Linked DNA regions of Homo sapiens: region 2 is linked to region 1. Evidence: fine-mapped expression QTL. A gene starts in region 1. The other region holds a variant in brackets. All regions are shown on one strand. Distances are between the middles of the regions. Region 1 holds the start of LINC02610 (long intergenic non-protein coding RNA 2610). Region 2 has its middle 13 kb from the start of TRAF3IP1.

Evidence for each region.
Region 2: its variant is fine-mapped to the expression of LINC02610 in whole blood (INTERVAL, PIP 0.98).

The regions. Positions count from the first base shown.
Region 1 is chr2:238,227,565-238,235,890 of GRCh38, reverse strand. It overlaps LINC02610 (long intergenic non-protein coding RNA 2610), which reads left to right and starts at 4,214. Exons shown (of 3, transcript NR_026926.1): 1 at 4,214-4,557; 2 at 8,093-8,207. It also overlaps the pseudogene TARDBPP3. RefSeq lists silencers at 1,078-1,167, 1,318-1,447 and an enhancer at 1,148-1,649.
Region 2 is chr2:238,302,876-238,311,201 of GRCh38, reverse strand. No RefSeq gene overlaps it. Among named protein-coding and RNA genes, the nearest start is that of TRAF3IP1, 13 kb to the left of the region's middle. The variant GAAGAAT/T (reference allele first, on the strand shown) is at 3,646.

The DNA of each region.
Region 1 (8,326 bases):
ACCTCCCTGGATGTGACATACTGTTAGCCTCTGTCTCAATGCTCTAAAGCAAAATTCCTTGAAAGCGTCATCTACACTTACTGCCTCCACTTCCACGCATCCCATTCCTCTTCATTCCTTTCCAATCAAGCTATTGTCCACCCTTCCACTGGAACTGCACAGTCAAAATCTCTAGTAACGAGCATGTTTCCCAACCCAGTGGGCATGTCCGCATGTCAGCTTCACTTCTCGTGGGTTATGACTCATCCATCTGGAGGCTCCTTCTCCAGTCTCAAGGGCACCACACCAGCCTTCTTTCTACCTCATCGGCCATCCTCAGTCCCCTGTACTCAATGCTCCTCCCTGCCGACCTCCAACTGGACGTGTTCTTCCCAAGGCTCTGTCCTCAGCCTTCCCTGCCGCCCTCCAACTGGACGTGTTCTTCCCAAGGCTCTGTCCTCAGCCTTCCCTGCCGCCCCCACACCCAGTGACACCATCTGGCCCGTTTTGCCAATCCCATGCCCTTGATTCAAAGCCCCTCTCCAGGCGGCTGGCTCCTCTGTATCCTCCTGTCCACTCAGTGACTGCACTTAGATGTCAGATGGGCTCACACCACCACCAAAACAACAGATCCTCAGGCATTACCACTTCTTGGTACCCCATGGATTGAGCAAAAAAATCTAGATGTCACCCTCAAGTTCACCCTCTTCCTGCCATCCCACGTCCTATCAGTCAAGCCCATGAGCACTACTTCTTCTTCTTTTTTATTTTTATTTATTAATTTATTATTATTATTATTATTTTGAGACGGAGTCTCACTCTGTCGCCCAGGCTGGAGTGCAGTGGGGGAGATCTAGGCTCACTGCAACCTCCGCCTCCTGGGTTCAAGCAATTCTCCTGCCTCAGCCTCCCAAGTAGCTGGGACTACAGGCGCCAGCCACCACGCTCGGCTAATTTTTTCTATTTTTAGTAGAGACGGGGTTTCACCGTGTTAGCCAGGATGGTCTCGATCGCCTGACCTCGTGATCTGCCCGCCTAGGCCTCCCAAAGTGCTGGGATTACAGGCGTGAGCCACCAAGCCCGGCGGAGCTCTACTTCTAAGCCCTGCCTCCACGTGTCGTCTTCTTTGCCACCGACCGAGTCCAAGGCAGCCTCGTTTCTAACCTGGGCCTCCGCAGCAGGCCTCTGACTCCCCTCCCACTCCAGTCCTGACCGTGACCTTCAAGACTCTACCCGGTTCAGCACCGCCGCCCCCCGGGGCTCCTCCCTTCCAGCCCTCCCTACGCTCTGCTCAGGCCTCTGCAAGTGACCCGAGAGCCAGGACCCGGACGGTCTCGATCAGCCAGTCGCCCAGCCCTTGAGCCCTTCCGGGACTGCCCGGAGCCGGCGCTGGGGAATACCGAGTCCCTTGGAGCCGGGTTCGGGGGGCGCCGTGAGCTGGGAGGCGCTCGGAGGAGCCGAGGCCTTGACCACGCCCCCTCCAGCCCCGCCCCGCCAGAGGCGAGCCGCGGGGCCTCCTGGGAGATGTAGTTCCGACCCCTTTACTTAGATTTTTGGTTTTTTTTTTTTAAATCAGTTTTATTTAAGAATTTCCAACAATGACAACTCTTATAAAAAGCATCCAAGCACAGGACACAGAACTGCAGCAAACAGCATTCTTATGGGTAGCTAACAGACATTAGAACTTCTACCCTTCTTTGAGACACCAGAGTTCACTGCTGAACTCTGCTTCCAAGTCCTCCTGCAAAGCACACCACAAGCTCAGTCCATGTTCTCAGCCCATCAGCTTCAGTTCACATTGCCACACTTACATATCAGTAACAGAAGAGAACACACACCATACAGCATTCACAGCAGTTGACAAAGGGGTAGGGGGAGTACAAGTATCATTTCACTTAACACATTCAAATAAAGTGGGTTATCTAAGAACAAAAACTCAAAGTCTTCCAACAGATGTGGATGTCCTTTGAATGCAAAAAACATTCGTACATTATTTGCTATCATTGCTGTCTGCACACTGTCACCAAAGCCGCAGGATTGAGAAACACATCTCGCCAAGTTAAAAAATATCCGTTATGCACCACCAAGTCTCTGCACGTGCTCTCTCCTTTTCTCACTCATACTAGCCTTTCATGCCTCAGCACCACCGTCAATCCCACACAAGGTTTCAAAAGTTCAAACAGCCTTCTAGTTCCATATCACAGCCTTGCGTTCACAGCGTTGATACGACTCTATGAAATAAAGAGTAGCAGATAAAAATGGGACACCCACCGTCAAAGACGCGGCCTGTGATGCGTGATGACGAATTCTTGAATGAGAAGGCATGTAGACAGAAGTGTTCCTATGGCAGAATATTTACAGCACTACTTTCAACCAAGTGCTTCTTCCATAAACATTTGAAATGAGATGAACTGCAGAGATTAAATGAAGGCTTCATATTGTACTTTTGTGTTTGAGGGGAGACAAGTGTTAAAAAACAAAACAAAAGAACCAAACTGTGACACCATGATCTTCTAAAAGGAGATTTTCTTAAGGAAAAAAATCCATATGGTGGGGTTCAAATTAAAACAAGGAATAAAGAATGTAGTTCTAATTCATGGCTTCCATTTTGAACATGCAAAGAACTCACTTGACAAGTCCAGGGATAAAATATTACAGGAGAAACCTTCTGATATCAATTGTAGTGTGTTGGTTTACCAATCAGGCAAACAGCAGTTCACTTTCAACCACTCAATATTTCAACCTTTCATGTAACAAAACTTATAAAATTCCTTTAGCTGTTCCTTTTTCTAAAGAAAAATGTCAAAAATACTACTGAATATACTCCACACTGAAGAAACCAATTTTGAAAATTCTTAGTACATATGTATTTTACAATATACTTACCATGAGTTTAGAAAAATTTGAATTCCAACCATTCTATACCAACCAACCACAACCCCACTGTCTACGTTCCCAGCCAGAAGACTTAGAATCCATGCTTGAGCCAAAGCCGCCATTAAAACCACTGCCCGACCCTGCATTGGATGCTGATCCCCAACCAATTGTTGCACCAAAATTAGAACCACTACAAGAGTTATTTCCAGAACCGAAGGCCTGGTTTGGCTCCCTCTGCATGTTGCCTTGGCTTTGGTTATCATCCGATGGGCCTGGCTGCTTCGCTGGCTGGCTAACACACCCATCGTACACCAACTGCTCTGCAGCACTGCCTGGGGGGCAGCCATCATGGCTGGATTAATGCTGAACGCACCAAAGTTTATCCCACCACCCATATTACTACCTTGATTGTTTCCCAAACCAGCTCCACCCCCTCTACTCTTACCAAATCCACCCTGATTCCCAAAGCCACCTGGATTACCACCAAATCTTCCACTTCTTGCTGTCTATTGCTATTGCGCTTGGGTTCGGCATTGGATATGTGAACGCTGATTCCTTTCATCGAGTCCTCTCCACAAAGAGACCGCGCAATCTGATCATCTGCAAATGGAACAAAGGCAAAGGCCCTGAACGGCTTGGGGACGAAGACATCCATCACATCCCCATACTGAGAGAAGAACTCCCACAGCTCATCCTCAGTCATGTCCTCCGTACGGCGCCCCACAAACACTTTTCTGCTTCTCAAAGGCTCATCTTGGCTTTGCCGCACCATAAGAACGTCTCCAAAGGTACTACAGTACTCTTTCAGGTCCTGTTCAGTTGTTTTCCATGGGAGACCCAACACTATTAAATCGGACTGGTCTTTTCACTTTCACTGCTGATGAAGCTTCTGTCTCACCCATTTTTCTTTTGTTATCTTTCGGATAGTTGACAACATACACCGGATTTCTCCAGCCAGCATCGGGGGCATGCAGAATTCCTTCTACCAGCCGGACACCTCTCATACATTGAGACACCGGATTCCTGCAGCGAAGCCCACACGCCCCTGGAAACTGGGCTGTAACCGTGGACAGCAGCACCGTCCCATCGTCTTCCGATGGTATTTCAATGGGCTCATCGTTCTCATCTTCGGTTACCCGAATATATTCAGACATCTTTTACTTTTCCACTAGGCCGCTGCTGGGAAGCCCGACAGGGACACCGAGGCAGCGACGGACCCAAGCGCCAGTGTTTTTTTGTTTGTTTGTTTTTTGTTTTTTTAAAGAGGCCACCACAAGTTGAGGCGGGACTACAACTCCCAGAGGCCGCCGCGGCCCGGAGGCCACGCCCCTTGGCGGCGAGCTCTGAGCCCTTTGCCGCATTTGACACTCGACATCCTCGTGCTTCTTAAAGCACTTGCCCAACGGTGAGCAACGGCCTCCAACGGTGCCCGAGGGACTCGCGCTGCCCGTTAAGCAGCTTTGCGGTGGCGGAGGCTGGGCTGCCGTCTCTCCGACATCCCGGGACGGAGGAAGAGATGAAGGCTCTGCAGCCCCCGCCGCCCGATTTACGCTTGAGAAAGCGAAGGCGAGAGAGGTCGTCCAGCCCCTGGGGGCCCAGCCCTAGAGAGCGGGGCGCGGGCTGCGGGGCCCGGCGGCCTGGACGGCGGAGCGTTGAAAGCTCCCCCAGGGATAGGAAGTGCAGCCGAAATCAACGATTGAGGTCAGTGAAGGAGCGGACGCTTGAGGCCTTGGAGGGGAAGCAGGTTTCTCCAGGAGGGAACCCGGGCCTCCGCTTTGCTCAGCGCTCCCCTCGCGAATGTGTTGAGCACCTGTTATGTGCTGGGGGTACAGAGGTGAGACTCACAAGGCCCCTGCATTGTCTTTAAGATCAGCAAGACCCCGCAGAGAACCCAAATCCAACGCGCACTGCCCAGAGGCAGACACTGGCATTCCTTGATAGACGGTAGCCAGGGAAGCCCAGGTCTTACTAGATTATTATCAGTACTTGGATTTGAATGTATCTGAGAGGAGGAGGGTTAAGGTTTAAGCTGTGGCTCAGAAGCCCCTCAGCTCTTCGTGGAATCTCCCAGGCTTTTCACTCTTGCATCCTCATGGAAAAATACTGCCCTCCCTGGGAAACCATGCTTTCTGTGCACACCTGCTCTGTTCCCATGTCGCTGTACTACCTATTGACCTGTCAATGGATGATGACACTTGGGGTACTATCCTCTCTCCTCCAGATCTTGCCCCACCTTAACCTTGAAAGAATATTAAATGCGCCCTTAGACGTCAGGAACCATCCCTCAAACCTTGCCATTCCTCTCTGTTGAACCTGCTCCAAATCTTAAGTGCCAACCTCCATCTTATCCACTTTATCCTGGGGAACTTGTCCTCACACCCCGTTGAGGTTTCTTACTTATTGTCCTACTGTTTTCTTCACACTCCAGTTTCTTAAAAACAGTCTTCATTCTCATTTTCTTCATTTCCTCATCACCTGTTTGTCCCTAACAAAATTTCAGTATGGCTACATTTCCTGCCATTCTACTATAGAAAACTTCTGCCAGAGTCTCCAATGAACTCCTGATTGCCGAGTAGACTCTTCAGTTTTCTCACCCGAACTTTGCGGCATTTGATACTCAACATCCTCATGCTTCTTAAAACATTGTTCTTGCCAGAGCACGGTGGCTCACACCTGTAATCCCGGCACTTTGGGAGGCTGAGTTAGGCAGATCGCTTGAGCCCAGGAGTTCAAGACCAGCCTGGGCAACATAGCAAGACTCCATCTCTACCAAAAATGCAAAAAATTAGCCAGACATGGTGGCCCGCACCTGTAGTCCCAGCCACTCGAGAGGCTGAGGTGGGAGTATCACTGGAGCCCGGGAAGTCAAGGCTGCGGTGAATTGAGATCACGCCAGTGTGCTCTGGCCTGGACAATGGGAGTGAGACCTTATCTCAAAAAATTGTTCTCTGTCTAGTCTTCTTGCTCTTCTTGTTCCACCATTCCTTCTCAGGTTCTGGCAGTGGCTCTTCACAACTGGATATTAAATGTTGTCTTTTTTTTTTTTTTTTTTGAGACAGGTTCTCACTCTGTCTCAGGCTGGAGGCTGGAGTGCAGTGGTACGATCATGGCTCACTGCAACCTCGACCTCCCAGACTCAAGTGATCCTCCCACCTCAGCCTCCTAAGTAGCTGGGACTATAGGCGCACATCACCATGCCTGGCTGATTTTTGTATTTTTTTTGTAGAGAGAGATGTTTGTAGTGTTGCCCAGGCTGGTCCAGCAATCCACCTGCCTCACTCCCAAAGTGCTGGGGTTATAAGCATGAGCCACCGTGCCCGGCGAATATTGTCTTCTTAAATATTGTGCCCCACATTTCTTTGCTAGGCCCTCTTCTCTAGCTTCTAGGCTGTAATCTGTATGATCTCCATGGCTTCACCTGCTGTGCTACCAGCTGCAAAATCTATTTCCAGCCCAGCCCTCTCTGGAGCTCTCATAGAGTTTATCCAAATGCCCCTGGCTGTCGCCTCTCAGGAATCCCACAGGTTCTGCAACAAGTTCAAATGTGAACTCAGCTTTCCAACAAAACCTGCTCCTCCCTTCATGTTCTGGATCCTTCAGAGCAACAAGGGCATCAATCCTTCAGGCTGGAAACCAGACGGTCCATGGAGACACCTCCCTGGAGCCCTGCCTGGGCAACCTTGACCTCCCAGGTTCCAGGGGACACTGGAGCCCTGCAGGTAGCGTCCAGGAACTGGCAATCCTGCCACTTCAACAGGTTGAACGAACAAGAGGATGAGTCTTAGACGTCCCTTTCCCCCTGTCCGGCTCCTGCATTCGTAGTTCAGGTTCTTGGCTGTCACCTGGAGAATGGCAGTGGTCATTAAGAAAACCCCCACCTTGAAGGTTACGCCCTGAGCTTCAGTCTTTTCAAAAGCCCAACACTGCAGATTCTCAAAGAATAGTAGGCCTGGTCCTCACGTGGGCCAACTCAGAACTTACTGACTGCCTCCACACCCCCTCCACCACCTTCTGTCTCCATGCCCTTGCCAGATATTTGGTTTGCTGCATGGCCAAAGCCGCTGCTCTGCCCTCTGCATGCCTCCAGGTTTGGCTCAGATAGACTGCCTGCCTGAAGCCTTTCCTGGTCACTCCTCGTTTTATGCAGTTTCCAAGGCTTCTTTTATTTCCCTGACGGCATAGTCCAGATAATGTTTGCTTGTTCATTCCACAGTTGTTAACTGGAGGCCTGCTCTTTGTCAGGCATTCTTCTAGTTGCTGGAGACAGACAGCATTTCTTCTCAAGTTTATGCTGTTATGGGCAGTTAGGCTGTTGGGTTGTTGTTGTCTTTTTTTTTTTTTTTTTTTTTTTTTTTGAGACAGAGTTTGTGCTTTGTTGTCCAGGCTGGAGTGCAGTGGCACGATCTCCGCTCACTGCAACTTCCTCCTCCTGGGTTCAAGTAATTCTTCTGCCTCAGCCTCCCAAGTAGCTGGGATTATAGGCGCCCGCCGCCACACCCAGCTAATTTTTGTATTTTTAGTAGAGACGAAGTTTCACCATGTTGGCCAGGCTGGCCTCGAACTCCTGACCTCAGGTGATCCACCTGCCTCAGCCTCCCAAAGTGCTAGGATTACAGGCGTGAGCCACCACGCCCAGCCTGTTGTCTCTTGATCCTTGAATACGCAGTCTCTGTCTTGTCTGTATTCCTGCCTCATATTTTCTCTCTCCTGCCTCTTTATCTCTTAAACCGTTGTCTCTTCATCCACATCATGGGAATGGCAGTAGTACCTACTTGTTTTGAGGGTTGAATGAAATAGCATGGAAAGCCGTTTTCTCAGTGCCTACTGTTGGTTGGAATTCCCTTTCTCTTTGTTTCCACCTCGTTCTCTTTGCGTCTTCATCCTCCCCTGCCTTCATATCCTTCTGTTCCCCATCTCACCAGCTCTCTCTTCCTCTCTCTGGCTCCCTTCCTCTCTCCTCTCTTCCCTGTCTCTCTGCCTCTCTCTGTTTCTTTCATTCTCTCGTCCCTGTTTCTGTCTCTTCCTCCAACCCACTTTTGCTGGGCTTTCCCTGCCTCTGCCCCGCCTTGCCTTCTTTGTCTTTCTCTAGCCTCCCTCTGCCTCTACCTCCCTCTCAGACGAGAGCAGGTGACTCCCCTGATGCTTCCTGCCCCTTCCCTGGTAGTGGGTGTGGAGGGGGTGACTGCCCAGCTTCTGCAGCGCCAGCGACTTCCTCCACCTTGTTCCCGCCCTGCAGGGTCTGAGCACCTCCCTCATGCAGACAGAGCCCCGGCTCCCATGTTCACCATGCTGAGAAAGACCTGCGGGGGACAGCAGGAGGACAGCCGGGGAATGGGCCCGCACTTGCCCAGGTGAGTGCTGTGGGGAGTCAGGCCAGCCCTGTGGAGAAGGCCGCTGGAAAGGGGGAACTGATGCTGCCATTCCTTATAAAAAGGGCCACCCAGTCCATGTAGCTGAGGACCAGCACCAG
Region 2 (8,326 bases), 75 kb before region 1:
TTTTGAGGCAGAGTGTCACTTGCCCTGCGTCCAAGACTGGAGTGCAATGACACAACCATAGTTCACTGTAACCCCAAGTTCCTGGGCTCAAGCAATCCTCCTACCTCAGCCTCTGAAGTAGCTGGGATTACAGGCGTGTGCCACCATGCTCAGCTAATTTTTTGTCTGTTTGTTTTTGAGATGAAGTCTCGCTCTGTTGCACAGGCTGGAGTGCAGTAGTGCGATCTCGGCTCACTGCAACCTCCACTTCCTGGGTTCAAGCGATTCTCCTGCCTCAGCGTCCCCGAGTAGCTGGGACTACAGGCATGTGCCACCACGCTCGGCTAATTTTTTTGTGTTTTTCGTAGAGATGGGGTTTCGCCACATTGGTCAAGCTGGTCTCAAACTCCTGACCTCAAATGATCCACCTGCCTCAGCCTCCCAAAATGCTGGGATTACAAGCGTGAGCCACTGCGCCCGGCCATCAGCTAATTTTTATTTTTTTTTGTAGAGATAGGATGTTGCTATATTGTCTAAGCTGCTCTTGAACTCCTGGGGTCAAGCTATCCTCCCACCTCAGCCTCCTAAAATACCAAAATTACAGGTGTGAGCCACTACCTCTGGCCTCTTGGCACTTTTGTTGAAGGTAAATTGACTGAGCCCTCCAACCTGAAATATCCCACCTGCCACTCCCTGAAAGCCTGCAGTTGACTCCCACTGACCCCAGGAGTCCTCCTCCAAGCTCCGGCGGTGCTGTCCAGCTCCCCCTGGCCCATGCTTAAACAAGGGCATGACTTTCCCCAGCTAGTGCACAAGGTCCAGGAAGGCTGGGACAGGGTCCATATGTCTCCTCAGGGCACCCCATGAATACTGGCTGCATGAACGTGTGGGTGCCTGAAGGAGGAAGGAGGAAGTCTTTAAAAAGGAGTGGCGCAGCCGGGCGCCAGAAACAAAACCTGGCCAGGCGCAGTGGCTTACGCCTGTAATCCCAGCACTCTTGGGGGACGAGGCGGGCAGATCACGCGGTCAGGAGATCGAGACCATCCTGGCTAACACGGTGAAACCGCATCTCTACTAAAAATACAAAAAATTAGACGGGTGTGGTGGCGGGCGCTTGTAGTCCCAGCTACGCAGGAGGCTGAGGCAGGAGAAGGGCATGAACCCGGGAGGCGGAGCTTGCAGTGAGCTGAGATCATGCCACTGCACTCCAGCCTGGGTGACAGAGCGAGACTCCGTCTCAAAAAAAAAAAGGCGTGGCCCTCTCAGCTATGGCTGCCTTGGCCCTGTGGTGGGTGCTGTGCCACTCAGGGCTGAGGCCCACACTGCCCCAGCTGCCAGAAGCAGTGATCCCTGTGGGCTCACAGCCAGGTTCCCTTCTGGGGAGACTTAGCCAAAGGGGCCTACTGTGCCTCCTGCTCCCTATGGGCACCCGCATTCAAGGGCTGATGGAGTTGGGGGTGCAAACCCAGTTTCCCAGAGATCTCTACCCAAGAGAGTTGCTCTCAGAAGTGGTCAGAGGAAATGGACCCTAAATTGAGATTTCGGAGCTGAATCACCACTGACCGGCTCAACTGAAGCCCCCAGGGTGGGCGTGAGAGACCACTGTCTCAAAAACAAACAAACAAACAAACAAACAAACTAGAATCCCCAGATTCTCCTGAATCATCTGGACCTACAGAGGAGGCCCACTGCTCCTGTTAAAGGCTAGCACCCCCTTTCTTGAAGTGTTTTATATAGAGAGAATGTGTGTGTTATAGTTGGGGGGCGGGGGGAGAGAGAGAGAGAGATGTCTGCCTTGCAAGACAATGCATGCGTTTTTCAGGATCTATGCCAATATCCCCCTCCTGACACCAGACCAATCATGAGGGTCAAACAACAACATAACCTAGCTAGGACATGCTGGCCTGCTAAGGGAGGGAGGGACTCTATTCCGAAGGAACTGCAGGATCTGCCTAGCATGGACCAGCAAGATCCAGGAGAGCACATCCAGGACTGCATCCCAAGAGTGCTGGACCCAGCAGGGGACAGAATATAAAGACGGATAAGACAAGAGTTGATGAATGTGGGAGGACTTTCCGTGATAGAAGCTTGTGACCCTGGCTGGGTCCCAGGGAGACAGTGCTAATGGGCTGTTAGAATGGCTCTTGGACACCTGCAAAGAGCTATGGCCTTCACTAAGTGAAGGAAAACTTCCAGCCCCACCATGGAGGATGGTAGGGAAATGAGCCTACTAGAGCACATACGTGATGTTGGGCCAGCAAACCTACCAGCCCACTGTGTCCTGTGAGAGGGCTCGGAGGTCACTTCATTTACCAAAGTGACAATATTTGGCATGTAATATTGGTTTTTATAGCCAAGAGTGGCAAGGTCAGAGTGGTAGCCAGGAAGACCTGACATGCAGAGAGCTATGCGGCCGGATAATACAACAAAATGTTCCTAGGGACCAGGGGAATGAGCAGTCAGCAAGGGTGTGGCCGAGCTTTCGAAACTAAAATAAATCAAACATGGATGAGCAGGAGGCTGAGAGTGGCTGCCCCAGTCCCCCGCTACAATCCCTTGCCTGGTTTTGGACCTAGAACTCATTGAAAGGCCAGGTTCCCAACATCACTGCCGGTGCAGGGAGCCAAAATCTCCCCCACAGTCCTTCCCCAAAGAAACCTAAGGCCACTCATTCAAGTAACTATACACAGGGAGGGGGAATACAGAACCATTTCAAGGACTATTGCACACAGAATCCTGGGGACATGGAGCATCATCTTGACTCCTGTTAAAGGGAGGGCATACGGGGTCAGGTGATAGAGCCCTAGCCCCACTTTGGATTTTGGTAGGTCCACAGGGTCCATGGAGCCACCTGGTGGTCATTTCCCGAGCCCTCAAATGCAATGATTGAAGTGGACACACTTGGCATATGGGGTAACCCCATGTTGGCCAGATACTTGGGATTGTGGAATAAGAGCTATAGACCTGGGAAGCTGAGTGGGAATCCCTGACACTGCCCCTCCCCCAGCCAAGACAGTAAATAAAAACCAATATTGCATGCTGAAGAGAGTTACAGCAATTATAAGGGACGAATAGATTCCACTGTTAAAACCTGAAGGATGCAGGTATACTTTCTCCCCATTATAGAGTCATTTAATTAGCCAAACCCCTGCAAAAACCACATGGATCCTGGGGATTGACAGTGGAATACTGCAAACCCAAACAAATAGGAGCCCCAATTGTGGTATCTTTGCTATAGCAGGTCAACACAATCTCAAGTCCATGGTAGGAAGCCAATACATTCATTTCCATCCCTACTTAAGAGGAGAACCAGAAGCCGCTTACATTCATTTAGGATGGATAAGAGTACACATTGGCTGGGCACGGTGGCTCACACCAATAATCCCAGCACTTTGGATCTGAGGTGGGCAGATCATCAGATCACCTGAGGTCATGAGTTTGAGACCAGCCTGGCCAACATGGTGAAACCCCATCTCTACTAAAAATACACAAAATTAGCCGGGTGCGGTGGGCGCTTGTAATCCCAGCTATTCAGGAGGCCGAGGCAGGAGAATCGCTTGAACCTGGGAGGTGGAGGTTGCAGTGAGCCGAGATTGCACCACTGCACTCCAGCCTGGGCAACAGATTGAGACTCCGTCTTAAGAAAACAAAAAAGAAGAAGAAGAA[GAAGAAT/T]ACACACTGATTGTCTCACCCCAGGGCCATATTAACTCTTTTCCCTCTTTCCTAATATAGTCTGGATGGACCAGACACTCTGCACAATGCTGCACTGGTTCAGTATACTGATATCCTATTAATTAAACTGGATGACCAGATTGACGAGGAGAAACCTCAGAGGCCTTATTAAGGTGCGTGTGCTGCAGAGGGTGGGAGAGAAACCCTGTGAAGTTCCAGGCGTCTGCTGCATCGGTGAAGTTTTTAGGGGCCCAGTGGTTGGAGCTTAACAGGCATCTCCACAGTGAAGGAAGGACTACATTGTGTACTTCCCACCACTAAGAAGGACCACGAGGACTGGTCGCCTCTGTGGGTTCTGGAGGCAGCACGTGCCACACTTGGGAATACTGCGTGGTCACATTTACCAGGTGGTGTGAAAGGCTGCCAGCATGGGGAAGAACGCTGCAGTGGGCACAGGCTATGGTGCTAGCAATCCAGCAAATTAGGCCAAATGATCTGGAAGATGCTATGGTTCTAGAGATACCTATGGTGGAAAAGATGCCTTGTTGCTTTAAATCTCTGAGTGTGTGATAACTTCATGGCAAACCCCCAGTGGGAGAATCACAACCTGGACCCTGGGGGTTCTGGAGTAAGGCCACGCTATCTGCAGCAAAGGAAGACAGATGCTGGTATGCCTCTGCACCCTAGCAGAGCGGAAGACACCAAGCGGTGATCACACCACTAGAGCTGCCTGCCTTGAGCCGGGCTCTGCCAGGGCCTCCAGGGCATAGGTCAGGCATGCTCGACAGAAATCTATGATAAGATGAAAGGGCACATCCAGCACTGGGCTTATGCAGGGCCAGAGCCACAGATAAACTGCACAAGACCCTCCTATCATCTGCCTCTGTTGCACCACTGGAGGTCCCTCACCTTCATCACTGCTGTGTTGGGTGGCGGTGTCACTTATGACCACCTAGTGGAGGAAGAAATAGGCCGAGCTTGGTTCATGCATGGGTTGGCTCAGTGTGGGATGCAAAAAATGCCTAAAAATAGATAGCTGCTGCACTGCAGCCTCACTCCGGGGCCTCCCTGAAAGGCAGTGCTGACAGACTGCCTCTCCCAATCTCCCCATGGACAGAAACTTGGTGTATTAGTTCATTGTTGCTGCTGTAACCAATTTCCAAAAACTTGGGAGTTTAAAACAACACAAATGGAATCTCTTACAATTCTGGAGGTCAGAGCTGAAACTGGGTGTTACTGGGCTGAAGTCAAGGTGTGGTCAGGGCTGTAATCCTTCTGGAGGCTCTAGGGGAGAATCCATTTCTTCTCCTTTTTCAGCTTCTAGAAGCTACCTGCATTCTCTGGCTCATGCACCCTTTCCAGAAACGACATCATTTTAACGTCTGTTTCTATGGCCACGCCTTCTTCTCGGACTTTGGCCCTCCTGGCTCCCTCTTCCACTTTTTTTTTTTTTTTTTTTTTTGAGATGGAATTTCGCTCTGTTGCCCAGGCTGGAGTGCGATTGTGCGATCTTGGCTCACTGCAACCTCCACCTCCTGGGTTCAAGTGATTCTCTTGCCTCAGCCTCCCGAGCAGCTGGGATTACAGGTGCCCGCCACCAGGCCCAGCTAATTTTTTTTGTATTTTTAGTAGAGAGAGGGTTTCACCATGTTGGTCAGGCTGGTCTCGAACTCCTGACCTCAGGTGATCCACCCGCCTCAGCCTCTGAAAGTGCTAGGGTTACAGGCGTGAGCCACCACACCCGGCCTCCCTCTTTCACTTATAAGGACATTTATGATTACATTGGGCCACCCAGATAATCCAGGATAATGTTCCCATCTCAAGATCCTCAATGTAATGACATCTGCAAAGTCCCTTTTACCCTGTACCAAAACAGATGTACAGGTTCCAGACATGGGCGTGTGTGGGGGCCCACCGTTCTGCCCACCATGCTTAGGCAGTACACGTAGCTCTCCATTTTGTGTAGAAAGAGAAGTGGCTTGGCATAAGAATATGTTCAGACCCATGGACAGCGGCAAAAGACGGCTGTTGCTGCTCTGGGCCTGGAAAATTCAAAGGTTGGGGACCAGGAGTTTAGTGGAAGGGTCATGCATGCAGCTAGGACCATGGGAGTGGACAGGCATGTGAAGGTCTCTGTATCCCTGCTAACAGCCACCAGAGAGCACCACCATGGAAAAGGCACCCAGCAGCCATGTAGGAAGATGCTTTGGCCGTTCGGAGTCAGCCTGCCTCTGTCATAGGCCATTCAGTGAGTAGCAGTGGTGGCAGGGTTGCAGGATGGTGTGGGCCTGACAGTATGGCCTCCAACTCGCCAAGGCTGAGTTAGTTCCAGCAACTGCTAAACATCCAGCTTAACAGCAAGACACCAAAGCTGAGCTCCCAGCAGAGTGCCACCGGGAGGAACTCAACTGGCCACTAGGTGGAAGGTTGATTACATTGGACTTAAACTCAATTATATTGCCCTAAAGGTGAGGCAGTGATTCATTTTGACTGACCCAAAGTGTGGATTTGGATATCCCAAGTGTGGATTTGTCTTTCCTGCCCTTACGAACACTATCTGGAGGTTTATAAAATGTTTGATCGATGGATATAGAATACCACATAACATTGCTTTGGACCAAAAAGACTCACTTTACAGCAAAGGATCTATGGTGTTGGGTACATGACCGTGGGCTCCACTGGGCCCATTCCTTACCATGCCGTTCAGATGCTGCCAATCTGGGTGAGTGATGGAGTGGTCCTCTTGTTAGCTCTGCTGAGGAGAAAATACCCTTTGAGGATGGGATTCCATCCTTTAAGACACAAAATATACCCTAAATCAGTGACCATCATAAATTGCTGTCTCCAGCTGATGAAAGGCATGGGTCTGGGAACCCAGGAGCAGAAGCAGGAACAGCCCCCAACCATGACCTCCAGGGATCCAGTTGGTGAATTTGAACTTCTCGTCCCCTCCATGTTGTGCTTTGCAGGTCTAGAGGCCTGTTCTCTAGAGGGGGAACACTGCCACCAGGGGATCCAGTGGACAATAAGCGATGGCTGTCACTGGTCACTCAGGCTCTGTGCCAAAAGACGAGCAAGCAAGGAAAGGAGTCGGTGTCCCAGCAGGGGTGACTGGCTCTGATCCTCAAGAGCAGGAAGGGCTGCTGGAACCGGGGTGGAGGAGAATCACCCTGGCACACAGCTGGCTTCTGGGGCATCACTTGGCACGCTCCTGCCCAGTTTTGGTGGGAAATGGACAAGCACAGCAGTTGCAGCCTGAAGAGCGTGTAGTGGCTGGGATGAGGGTTTGTGTCCTCCTGCCAGGTGGGTGCCCAAGCGCAGCAGAGGTGCTAGCAGAGGAAGTGGGGAATCCAGACTGAGCAGTAGATGACAAAAATCAGCTATGGTCATCCCACTAGCCTTCCTCCTACCTAACCCAGCAAAGAGACAAACCAGAGTCAGTCCTGGGAGGGGACGCTTCAGATGGGGTCCTGGAAATTTTCCAGGAAGAAAGGACGGGGGAGTTCACTGGAGAGCCATGGCCGAGCTTCCTTCCCACCTGCTAAGACTTCACCACTTCTCTAAAACACAAACCCGGCTCAACTGGTCGCCTATACAAACCTAACAAAGGCTTCGTCGGCTGCAAAAATATTGTTGCTGAAAATGGGTCAGTCTTTTGATGCCAGTGAAAGACGCTGGTCCCTGCTGATAGCACACACACACACACACACACACACACACACACACACCCCCCACACTGGGCCATGCAGCTGTTGGTACAGAGCTGCCAGGGCTAGAAACGGCTTTTCTGGGTGTCATAGGCCTTGGCCTCCCCTCCAATGCCCTGGAGGGGCAATTCCCAGTAGGAGAAGCTCCGCCCACAGGTCTGCAGGGAGCCCTCCTCAGATGAGGCAGCAAACGCCACTGCACTCTGTTGGCCGACATAAGATGTCCTAAAGGAAAGTCATCTCTGGAGTTAGATAAATATGGCCTGAAACCTTTATGTCCTGAATATTGGGGAGAGGGAGGAGAAATGGGGAGAAAAGAGTAAAAACAACCATGAGAAGCCTTGGACAGGATCAGGTGAAGTGCATCCTTGGGAGAAGGGGGAAATGATTCTTACTTTGAGTGAGTTCCGAACTGCCTTGGGGAGAAGCCCTAAACCTGTAGCCCAAGATGACAAGAACTTAATTCCTAGAAATAAAAAAGCCTCCACTATCCCTGTCATGGGATGCCATCAAAAGTTGCCTGGGAGGGACAGTTGTGTGATGAGTTTTGAGTTTTCGAGAACTCAGGAGTCCTGAGCGGGCGCATGGAGACGACAAAGAAGAATGGGAGCTGGAAAACCGGAGTGGGAGGCACCATGAGACCCAAGTCGCTGGTCTCAGGTGCTAGCAGGAAGTGAATGCTGGGGACGCAGGAAGTGAACGCTGGGGACAGGGGACGTCGTTTCTCATCCCATGAGGGCCAGGACTCTAATGAGTCCAGCACAGATGGACGTCCTGGTGGCAGGACTCAGTGTCTGCACCGGGTGACACACAGGGCCCAGCCTCATCTTCATCAATAGGAAAACATGAGCTCTGGTAGGGCAGCCCCACATTCAAACCTGGGCGCCTCTGGGCATCAGAGGAGGAAGGGCCCAAACCACCTGAACAAGTGCTTGCCCCAAAGGGCACAGTGACCTGGCTGGGGGCGA